Linked DNA regions of Homo sapiens. The protein of the gene in region 1 purifies or fractionates together with the protein of each later gene. This does not show direct contact. Each region holds a gene or a part of one and is shown on either strand. Other genes may lie near its edges.

Region 1 (5,567 bases):
CATGAGGCTCCAGTCCTAACAATGACTTTGGGTCAGAGGACTGGACGGACAGCTGCCTGCCTACCGGAAGGGCTTTGGGCTTTTTCTGGCCAAGTGGTTTTTTTGAGGCTGGAACTGCTCAGTTGGGGGCCCTGCCTCAGCCAATCCACAACCTCTTCTTTCCCAAACTCTCCTTCAAACTTACCTCTCTGGGAAAGCCCTCCCTGTCTGAGTCCCCAGCCCCAACAAATTCTATTCACTAGAGCCAAGGTGGGCTCTAGAGTCCTCAGCAGTAAGAACCGCATCTTCCCAACTAGCCTGGCTTCCTGGAGGACTTCAACAGCTGGCTTCCTTTTTCTGTATCCCCTTTAGTGCCCAGGATGGAGATGGGCACACCCAACCACATCAGCTGCCTCCCCAACTCTGTCCCCTCTCACCACACGACAGGATGAAGTTAGGCGAGGTCAGCATGATGAAGGGGAAGGTCTGGAGGAGGCCAAAGTAGACGAGGTTGGTGAATAGGCCCACTCCAATCATGCTGGTGGGGAAGCGCTCAAAGACGTAGAGGCCAATCAGTACAGCGGTGGAGAACTGAAACAACCAGAGGCAGACAGTGCAGGGCGCTTCTTCCAGGCAACGTTCCTGGACTCACCAACCCCCAGCCCGCTCTGGGCAGCACTAGGTTCATGCTTCAATCTCCTCATTTCACAGGTCTGGCCTCCCCAGCTAGGTTCTCTGCTCCCAAAAGGCAACATTTTTTTTTTTTTTTTTGAGACGGAGTCTCACTCTGTCATCCAGGCTGGAGTGCAGTGGCGCGATCTCCTGGATTCAAGCAATTCTCTTGCCTCAGCCTCCTGAGTAGTTGGGACTACAGGCATGCACAACCACGCCCAGCTAATTTTTGTGTCTTTAGTAGAGACAGGGTTTTGCCATGTTGGCCAGGCTGGTCTCAAACTTCTGATGGCCTCCCAAAGTGCTGGGATTACAGGTGTGAGCCACCGCACCCAGCCCATTTCTCAAACTTTTTGACAGCAACCCACAGTAAGAAAAACATCTGCCAGGCGAGGTGGCTCACGCCTGGAATCCCAACACTTTGGGAGGCCAAGGCAGGCAGATCACCTGAGGTTGGGAGTTTGTGACCAGCCTGACCAACATGGAGAAACCCCATCTCTACTAAAAATACAAAATTAGCCAGGCATGGTGGCACATGCCTATAATCCCAGCTACTCGGGAGGCTGAGGCAGGAGAATCGCTTGAACCCAGGAGGCAGAGGTTGCGGTGAGCTGAGATTGTGCCACTGCACTCCAGCCTGGGTAATAAGAGCGAAACTCCATCTCAAAAAAAAAAAAAGAAAAAGAAAAACATTTTACACTGTGACCCCAACACATATATACATATATATGATTCAAAGCTCAAATTTCAATTCTATTTATGTTCCTTTTTTTAAAAAATGCTGATTGTGACCTACTATACAGCCAAATAATGAATCATGCCTACAGTTTGAAAAACACTACTGATAAGTACCTACAGTTGTCAGTGCTTAGCAAATGACAGTTGGCTGAATGAAGGGCTAATTACTGTGCCAACACCCACAAGCTGGGCCTCTGGACCAGAGCTGAGGGCTATAGTCTTGCCTCCACTGTGAACTCCCAACCTCAGCCATGCCCAGAGTGCACATGGCTGCTGACACCAGGCGACTTGAGGGGCTGTGGACGCTTTCTCTCCAATGGCACCCCTACCCCCAGCCTTTCCTGCAGCTGAAGGAAGTCTGTCCACCAGCAGTCACCCCTATGGCTTTGATATCAGTGGCAAGGACTGTGTCTTCAGTAAGAGAAGCCTCCCATGAGACCAGGGAAGGGCGAGGGCAGCGAAGCTGTGCCGATCTTAGGACAAATCACTTGATCCGATTAGAAAGATGGCAATGAACATATATGCAAAACTGTCTTATGGCTCCTCTAAGTTTTAAATGCTGTGAGCAGAGCAAAGGGCTAAAGACAGCGGGAGAGAGCTAAGCAAAGTCAAATCTACGGTCTTGTCAACAGAGAAGTACACTTCGCTGTCACCTTAAGGACTAGAGCACAAGGCCTGCAGTGAAACAATGCCACTTGGGGAAGGCGGCCAGGGAAGATCTGGGCCCAGGAGTGCAGACCCAAAAGACAGCGTTCAGGGCAAGGAGGTAAGAGTGTATGCTCAGGAAACAGCAGAGACACAGGCCTCATCATCCATGCCAAACTCTCCCCACTTCCTGCTTTTGAGGCAGGGCAAAAGAGTGAGGAGGACTCCTGGAGAAAGATGCCACTTACCCAGATCATGTATTTTATGATCCTGCTGGTGGCCACTGTGTATTCTTCTATCAGTTCTGCCAGGTAATAGAGTCCAGCCGCTGCAGGGTGGGAGGCAGGGAGACTATCAGCCAGGGTCACTCCCACCATCCTGGTCACCCCTCTCTCTGCAGCCCAGTCCCCATCCACCCTTCATGGACCCCAGAAGGTCAAGAACAAACCAAACATCCCATGTGTTGCCCTTCCAAGTCTGGAGAAGTAAAACTTTCTTAGGGCAACTAAGGACAAATCTCATAAAAATCAACGAAAGTCTGCATTTGATGCCACAGTACAATGATAACCTCTGGCTCAGAAAACGGAATTTCACGTATTCAATAAACACCTGCTGGGCACTTGGCATGAGCCAGGTCCCTGGGCTGAGAATACAGCTGAAAAAGACAGACAAGGGTCCTTCCCTGACCCAGCTTGGGAAAGGGAAGGGGAACAGTAGGGAGAGACAGACGAGTTTAGTGTGAGAAATGCTACTTTAGGGAAAGGACAGGGCACTGCTGGACCATCAACCCCTGTGGACTTCCCGGAAAAGATGACATCTCAACTGAGGCCGAATGGGAACCAGCCAGAGGAGAAGTGTCAAAGGTGGAGAGAGCAGGGAGCATGAAGGGCCAGAGGCGCAAAGGCGGCGGTAGGCGTTGGGGAAAAGTTCCGCGCGGCAGGCCCGCGAAGAGTGGGAGCCGCAGCGGTTAGCGGTCCGCAGACGCGGGGGCGGCACTCGAGTCACCCTTTCTCGGGCAGTGCCGGAGCGGACTCTGTGACACCTGGAAGGAGCCACGGTCAGGCCGGGCTGCCAGGCTCGACAGGAGGGGCAGGATCAGGCGGGAAGGGGTTGGGGCGGCGAAGGCCGGGAGCGCCGGGCAGTGGTCCCCCGAGTGGCTCCGAAACCCCCGCGATGCGACCCCCAACGAGCACCGATGCCGGGGCGGGAGCCCGCGCGGGCCGGGGTCGTGCAGTCTCACCGACAGCCAGCGTGATGAAGGCCACCTGGATGAAGAGCGACAGCCAGCTCAGCAGGTACATGAACCACATGGCGCCCCCACCCGCCCGCTCCCCGGCCACCGGGACGGGCCTGCGCGCTTCGGCTCCGGCGACACACAGCCGCCACCGCCGCCGCCGCCGCCGCGTCCCCGCCCCGCGGACGACAGGACGACGGTGCGCCGCCGCCGAGAGGAGCCCGGCCCTAGCGCTGCCCGGGGCCAGGCTCGCGCTAGCGCCGCCCGCCGGAGAGGAGGGCCAACCGCCGCTGCCCCGCCAGGATCCCCCGCTCCACTGAGGGGAATGAATGCAGACCGCTGCAGCCAGAGGGAGGCGGGACGGTGCCCAGGGGCGGAGACGACCAAGCGCCCATACTGGGGCTCGGAGTGCAGCCTCCAGTCCCTCCCTGTGCACTCCCGTACCAGCCTGGAGGTGGTCCAGGGCCGGACAGGGCCGCCCGACCGCGCCCCAGCAACCTCCCCAGAACCTGCCTCCCGGCAGGTTGCGGACAAGTCTGTCTCTTGCTATCGCAGGTGATAGGGACAAAATTATTGAATTCCTAATATGTGCCACGCTCTGTGATAAAGGCGAGGTGTGTTCTTGTCGGAAATTTGAGCAGATAATGTAAATCATTTTATAGACGGGGAAGCCGGGGCCAAAGGAAGTTGCCCTGGGTCATGCACCTAGGAAGCGGCACAATCAGGAGTTGGGGTGATTTTAATCGGTCATCCTCCGGCCTAATTCCCCTCTAGGCTGTTCTTTTGGGGTACATTCTGCACCTTTGTATCGCCTGCACCTCACCCCTTGCCGGGCACGCAGGGCGTCCGCTAGGCGCTGGATGCATTTACTACACCTCTGGGAGGGTTCCTGAGGGGCACCTGGAACCGGTTAGTCCTTGTCAACAAGTCTCCCATCTAGTGGCGGAGACAGGCATGCAAAATAAAGTATGTAGAACAAGAGTCTAGTAGGCTTATTTCAGAATCATATTTTTCCTGCATAAAAATACGTATTCCTAAAAAAAACAATTACCGTATGATTTAGCAATTCTACTTCTGGGTATATACCCAAAAGAACTGAGAAAGCAGAGACATTTGTATACCAATATTCATAGCATTATTCACAATGGTCAGAAGAGGGAAGCAACCCAAATGTCCATCGGTTGACGAAAAGATAGACATAAAGTGCTATAAACATACAATGGAATATTATCTAGCCTTAAAATGAAGTGAAATTCTGACACATGCTACAACATCAATGAACCTTGAAGGCATGATGCTAAGTGAAATAAGCCAAATAGGGAAGGACACACATTGTATGATTCCCCTCATATGAGGTACCCAGAGTAGTCAAAATCATGGGCAGAAAGTTAAATGGTGCTTGCCAGGGTCTGGGGGACAAAGAATGGGGAGTTACTTTTTAATGGATACAGGGTTTCAGTTTGGGAAGATGGATGGTGCTGATGGCATCACAACAGTGTGAATGTGCTTAATGTCACTGAATTGTATACAGTGTTACAGAATTGTAAAATGGTTAAAACGGTCAATTTTATGTTATGCATAGCTTCCCCCTCCCCCCAACAAAATACATAAGATTACAAAGCCCATCCTGGCTAACACGGTGAAACCCAGTCTCTACTAAAAATACAAAAAATTAGCCGGGCTTGGTGGCGGGCGCCTGTAGTCCCAGCTACTCAAGAAACTGAGGCAGGAGAAGAGCGTGAACCCGGGAGGCAGAAGTTGCAGTGAGCCGAGATTGCGCCACTGCACTCCAGCCTGGGCGACAGAGCGAGACTCCGTCTCAAGAAAAAAAAAAAAAAAAAGATTACAAAGCAGGCTGGGCACAGTGGCTCATGCCTGTAATCCCAGTACTTTGGGAGGCTGAGGTAGGAGGATCACTTGAGGCCAGGAGTTCAAGACCAGCCTGGGCAAAGAAAAATTTTAAAATGGCCAGGCATGGTGGTGCGTACCTGTAGTCGCAGTTACTCTGGGCTGAGGCAGGAGGATTACTTGAGTCCAGGAGATGGCGGCTGCAGTGAGCTATGATTGGGCCACTGCATTCCAGCTGGGATGACAGAATGAAAACTTGTCTCAAAAAAAAAAAAAATTGCAGTTGCCGGGCGCGGTGGCTCACGCCTGTAATCCCAGCACTTTGGGAGGCCGAGGCGGGAGGATCACGAGGTCAGGAGATTGAGACCATCCTGGCTAACACGGTGAAACTCTGTCTCCACTAAAAAATACAAAAAAAAAAATTAGCCGGGCATGGTGGCGGGCGCCTGTA
Region 2 (5,111 bases), on another chromosome or scaffold:
TATGCTTCCTTTGAATGCCATTAATATTTATGTTAAAGTAACCAATGAAAGGAAATTACTTTGTTATAATAAGATAGGAAGACTTGTTAATGGAGTACACAGTTTTGTCAGGGAAAGAACACATCTTATTGAACTATGATGACTATGCATTGACTATATTATTATAAGAGATACCTTCAAACTTTATTTAAAGAACTTTAGGTATAATATGTTGAGAAAATAAAATAGAAATTTCATTTACTTGTAATCATGCTTAAAATGGGAGGCAGGTAGGTGAAGATATAATTTTTAGTAAAAACTCCAATTTATGTTTTAAGTAATTCAGTGTATTACTAAAATACTATATATATAAACTTAAAATACATGGGTTATCAATTTAAAAGACAAAGTAAGTAAAAATACTTTTAGTAGGCATTCGTGGATTGTGAACATCCAAGTTATATTGGTTTGTATAGAATGGCATTAAGTAAAAATTACAGCTGTATAACAGTAGTTTTCTAAATTGAGAGAGTCCACATTGTAATTAGAGATCACTGTGACCAAAATGCTTCTCCTTGATTTATAATGATGTACTGTATTTTGTACTGCTTATATGAAATTTCAGCAAGATTGACGATATTATAAAGATGCTTATAAAGTGTAAGTGGAGACGCTAAATTGTGAGTACAAAGTTTCTTTTTCACAACAGTGATAAGAAAATATCTTTAAAAAATATAAGACAATATAAACATGTCATCATTAGTTTAGCTACTATTAAAATGTAACATCTAGAAAGTACTGATCTCCACCTTCAGACTTCTGTATAAGTATATTTTTTCACTGATCTGTTCATTAGAGTTCTTCCAGCCAAGACTCTGGGCTCTTAAAACATGTATCTGAAAACTAAAAACAAGTTAATTTTTTTAAAAGCTTCTCTATTTCTAGTGATTCAATAGGTAGAAAAATAGCTTCTAGAATTAACTGCAATGCTTTCTAAGGAAATTTTATAAATCCTCAAGGTCGGTTTACACATATTTTTCCAGATTCAGAGCACTAACTATCTTGTAAGATGTAAGAAAAGGTCCATTTGGAAGTATGAGTAATAAATGTCTGGGATAATTCTGGTTTATTTCGTATTATCCTTGTTAGAATAAGTTATATGGTCAACCTGTTCAGAACACTTTTTCTAGTGTTAGTGTGTACTTTTGGATTTTTGGTTCTTGTAGGGTATAGAAATATTTTCCTTTGTCTTGTATTCTGTTGTTTTGAATGAATAAAACACAATGTTTCACGATCACTACTTTCATTTGCCATGGAGAAATAGCAGGGAAAAATTTCTACAGAATAAAATTAACTGATGAATTACATGCAGAAAAAATTCAAATCAATGATACATTGTAATTTTTATCTCAATGCAATGTTCTTTGTATTTTATTTTATTATTATTTTTTTGAGACGGAGTTTCACTTTTGTTGCCCGGGCTGGAGTGCAATGGCACAATCTCGGCTCACCACAACCTCTGCCTCCCGGATTCAAGTGATTCTCCTGCCTCAGCCTCCTGAATAGCTGGGATTACAGGCATATGCCAACATGCCTGGCTAATTTTGTATTTTTAGTGGAGACGGGGTTTCTCCACGTTGGTCAGACTTGTCTTGAACTCTGGACCTCAGGTGATCCACCTGCCTCAGCCTCCTAAATTGCTGGGATTACAGGCATGAGCGACCACTCCTGGCCTTGTTCTTTGTATTTTATAAGTGCATGTAGTGCAAAGGGTCAAAGGGCTTTACAGGTTTTTTGTTTGTTTGTTTTTGTTTTTCCCGAAACATAGTAGTCCCTTGCCCTTCCTCATTTTTGTTACCTTGAGACAACAAATTTTACTACTTCTAACTCATTATTTTATTTATGTTCACTTTTCTGAATAGCATGCTTATGACACTAATACTTTTTTTTTCAATTTTAGACATTCATTATTCATTTAGATGTCTTTCTCTCCCCAAACTCACCACATAAAATACTCTTCTCATGTCTCTTTCAGAAATATTTGTATTAAAATATGATTATATCAATATTTGGCATTTATTTCTTATGACCTTGCCAGTACTCTTAGTTAAACTACATGGTAAAAATGATTTTGCTTTCCCTCCTACATAACTTTTTTTCCACCTAGAGCTAATAATTGTCATTCTGGGGACTGACTTTTTCTGTATTTACCATAAATTGACCTGAAACTCCCCTGTGATGCAGCAGGAATTCTACCAACGTCAACTTCCTTAGAAAGACTCCATTAGAAGCTTGACTTGGGGCTAGAAGGAGAGGCACACAACTGCCATCCTGGTGTCTCCCTTCATCCAGAAAAAGGGGGAGGAATACATGAAACCTAGAATCCACTCTAAAACATTTTCCAGAACAAAAGGACATGTGTTTCCGTGTTGTAAATGTTTAACGAGTGCCCATAACAAGGAATAATAAGTCTATTATGTTTGCTTTTGTGTCTGTAAAAGTTGGGGGTATTGGTTGTAAGCACGAAAACAGATACTGACTGTTGAAGAAAAAAAAAAATACGAGGTCAGGAGTTTGAGACCAACTTGGCCAATATGGTGAAACCCTGTCTTAGTAAAAATAGAAAAATTAGCCAGGCCTGGTGGCACGCACCTGTAGTCCCAGCTACTTGGGAGGCTGAGGCAGAAGAATCGCTTGAACCCGGGAGGCAGAGGTTGCAGTGAGCCAAGATCGCACCACTGCACTCCACCCTGGGCAACAGAGCGAGACTCCGTCTCAAAAAAAAAAAAAAAAAAAAAAAAAAAAAGTTAAGTATTTGAACATAGGGGTGGCTCATAGAATTCCCAGGACACCCGATGGAGTAGGCTTGCAAAACACAACATGTGGCAACTCCAGTGGGAAACGAGGCAGGAAACACTCGTTTCCTGCAGAAAGCAACAATTTGGGCTTCGATACCCTCCCTAGAACACAGGGCAGTGAATCTGAGCAGCATCAGTACCCCACGTTCGGATGAGTCCTGAGCCCCTATTTTTATTCACTGACTTATTCCAAAATCAGTGTCTCTTAAATATATCTGGAAGGCAGCAGCTTGTATCTCCCCCTTCAGCTTCCATAGTGGCAGTCAGGGTACAACTTACTTTCCAAACAGAACACACTGCGACATTCCCTCCAGGCTCGTTGAAGAACTTCAACTGACAAATGTCCCTCCTCGACCAGATGATAGTTTTCTTAAAGGCAGGGTTTAATATACCCTTTTATAAATGTTTCAAGGCCCTGTGTAATACCTGAGTTTATTCCAGATGTAACTAAATATATCCAAGATTGTTTTAAAATAAATTGCTGAAAAAACAAATAAATACAGTTAGTATCTATATCAATATTCTCAGTTGGCAGTTTTGCAATAATGGCCGATAGTTCATTTTTAGTAACACTATTGACATTGCATTTGGATATTAGGGTTTACTAATCATCCGCATGTATACATTGCATATTTTTCTAGACTTTAACTTTATTCAAATCTATTGATTTTTAAACCTGCAACTTATGTCTAGACACAGGTATACCTTTACAAGAACTACCATTTTTTTTGGTAACATACTACCTCCAAAATTTCAAGTAAGAAGTTGATTTTTGTCCATTTTTAAATGGAAAACTTGTAATCAAAATGCCACAAAATTATACTGTGTATCATTTGACCTATAGAAACCAATATTATTACAGGAAGAAAGCAGAGCCAATCTTCTACCTGTGGTCAAATAAGTGGAGGCCCTTTCTAGACTAAGTTCTCATGAGTTTAAAATACCAAGCATAAGTTCTCCAAATTCCTGAAAAGGAAGCCTTGTGTTGTATTGCCCAGCCATATTTGTAAGACATAAAAATAAAACTTGAGAAGAAGCTATGATAACTTACTTTCTTCATTCTTCAAAATTTACATAATCTCAACTGATTTTATGTTTTTATGAAAATGCATTCTTAAGATATATCCTTATTCAATCATGTATTCATTACATCCTTTATGCCAGGTATCCAAAAGTACTTACAGTGACTAAGACCATTATTCTTTGATCAGCTGCCTGAGTAAGACTTTGAGCTCTCCAATATACTCTCAGTGATACTAAGTTTTCTGAGTAACAGCTTTGGATGTGGCTTCAGTTGAGCTGATTTATCCCACACTTTATTTTTATCGTATAATGGTCCTCAGAAGCAAATTTTGATTTTAGCTCACATAAAAAATGTACAAAGAAATGTAATGGCTCAGTAGCTTCTAGAGATAGAGATTACTCTTCTAACCTTTCTGTAATTTTGTATGTCTATTTTATAATTCTTTCAATGTCTAATGAATAGCTATCTTTTTTTGAGACGGAGTCTCGCTCTGTCGCCCAGGCTGGAGTGCAGTGGTGCGACCTCGGCTCACCGCAAGCTGCGTCTTCCAGGTTCACGCCATTCTCCTGCCTCAGCCTCCCGAGTAGCTGGGACTTCAGGCGCCCACCACCATGCCCAGCTAATTTTTTTGTATTTTTAGTAGAGACGGGGTTTCACCGTGTTAGCCAGGGTGGTCTCGATCTCCTGACCTCGTGATCCGCCCGCCTCGGCCTCCCAACGTGCTGGGATTACAGGAGTGAGCCACCGCGCCCGGCCTCCTTAGTTTCTTAAGGTGGAAGCCTAGATTATTGATTTTATATGTTGTTTTCTTTTCCAATAGTGGCACTTAATGCTATAAATTTCACTTTGTTCCACAAGTTTTGGTAAGCTCTATTTTTATTTTCATTTAGTCCAAAATATTTTAAAATTTCTTTTGATATTTCTTCTTTGAGCCATGAATTATTTACAATGTGTTGTTTAATCTCTATATATTTTGGGATTTTTCTACTTTATATCTCTTACAGATTTCTAACTTAATTTCATCATGTTTTAAAAACATTCTTTGTATAATTTCTATTCTTTTAAATTTTTCAGGTGTATTTTATGGCCCAGAATATGGTCTATCTTGTAGAATGTTTCATGTGATCTTAAGAAGAATGTTCATTCTGCTGTTGAGTGTAATATTCTACAAATGTCCATTAGATTAAACTGATTGATACCACCGTTCAGATTATCTATATCCTTTCTGATTTTCCCTCTTCTTGATCTAT

What was found.
Region 2: the proteins of TEX261 (region 1) and CD226 purify together in Homo sapiens (co-immunoprecipitation; one large-scale study listed by IntAct). This does not show direct contact.

What each region holds. Positions count from the first base shown.
Region 1 is NC_000002.12:70,991,414-70,996,980, forward strand, and holds the start of TEX261 (protein TEX261), read right to left. Parts: upstream 3,461-5,567; 5' UTR 3,345-3,460; coding exon 3,275-3,344; intron 2,363-3,274; coding exon 2,283-2,362; intron 571-2,282; coding exon 417-570; intron 1-416.
Region 2 is NC_000018.10:69,856,393-69,861,503, reverse strand, and holds part of CD226 (CD226 antigen isoform a precursor), read left to right. Parts: 3' UTR 1-5,111.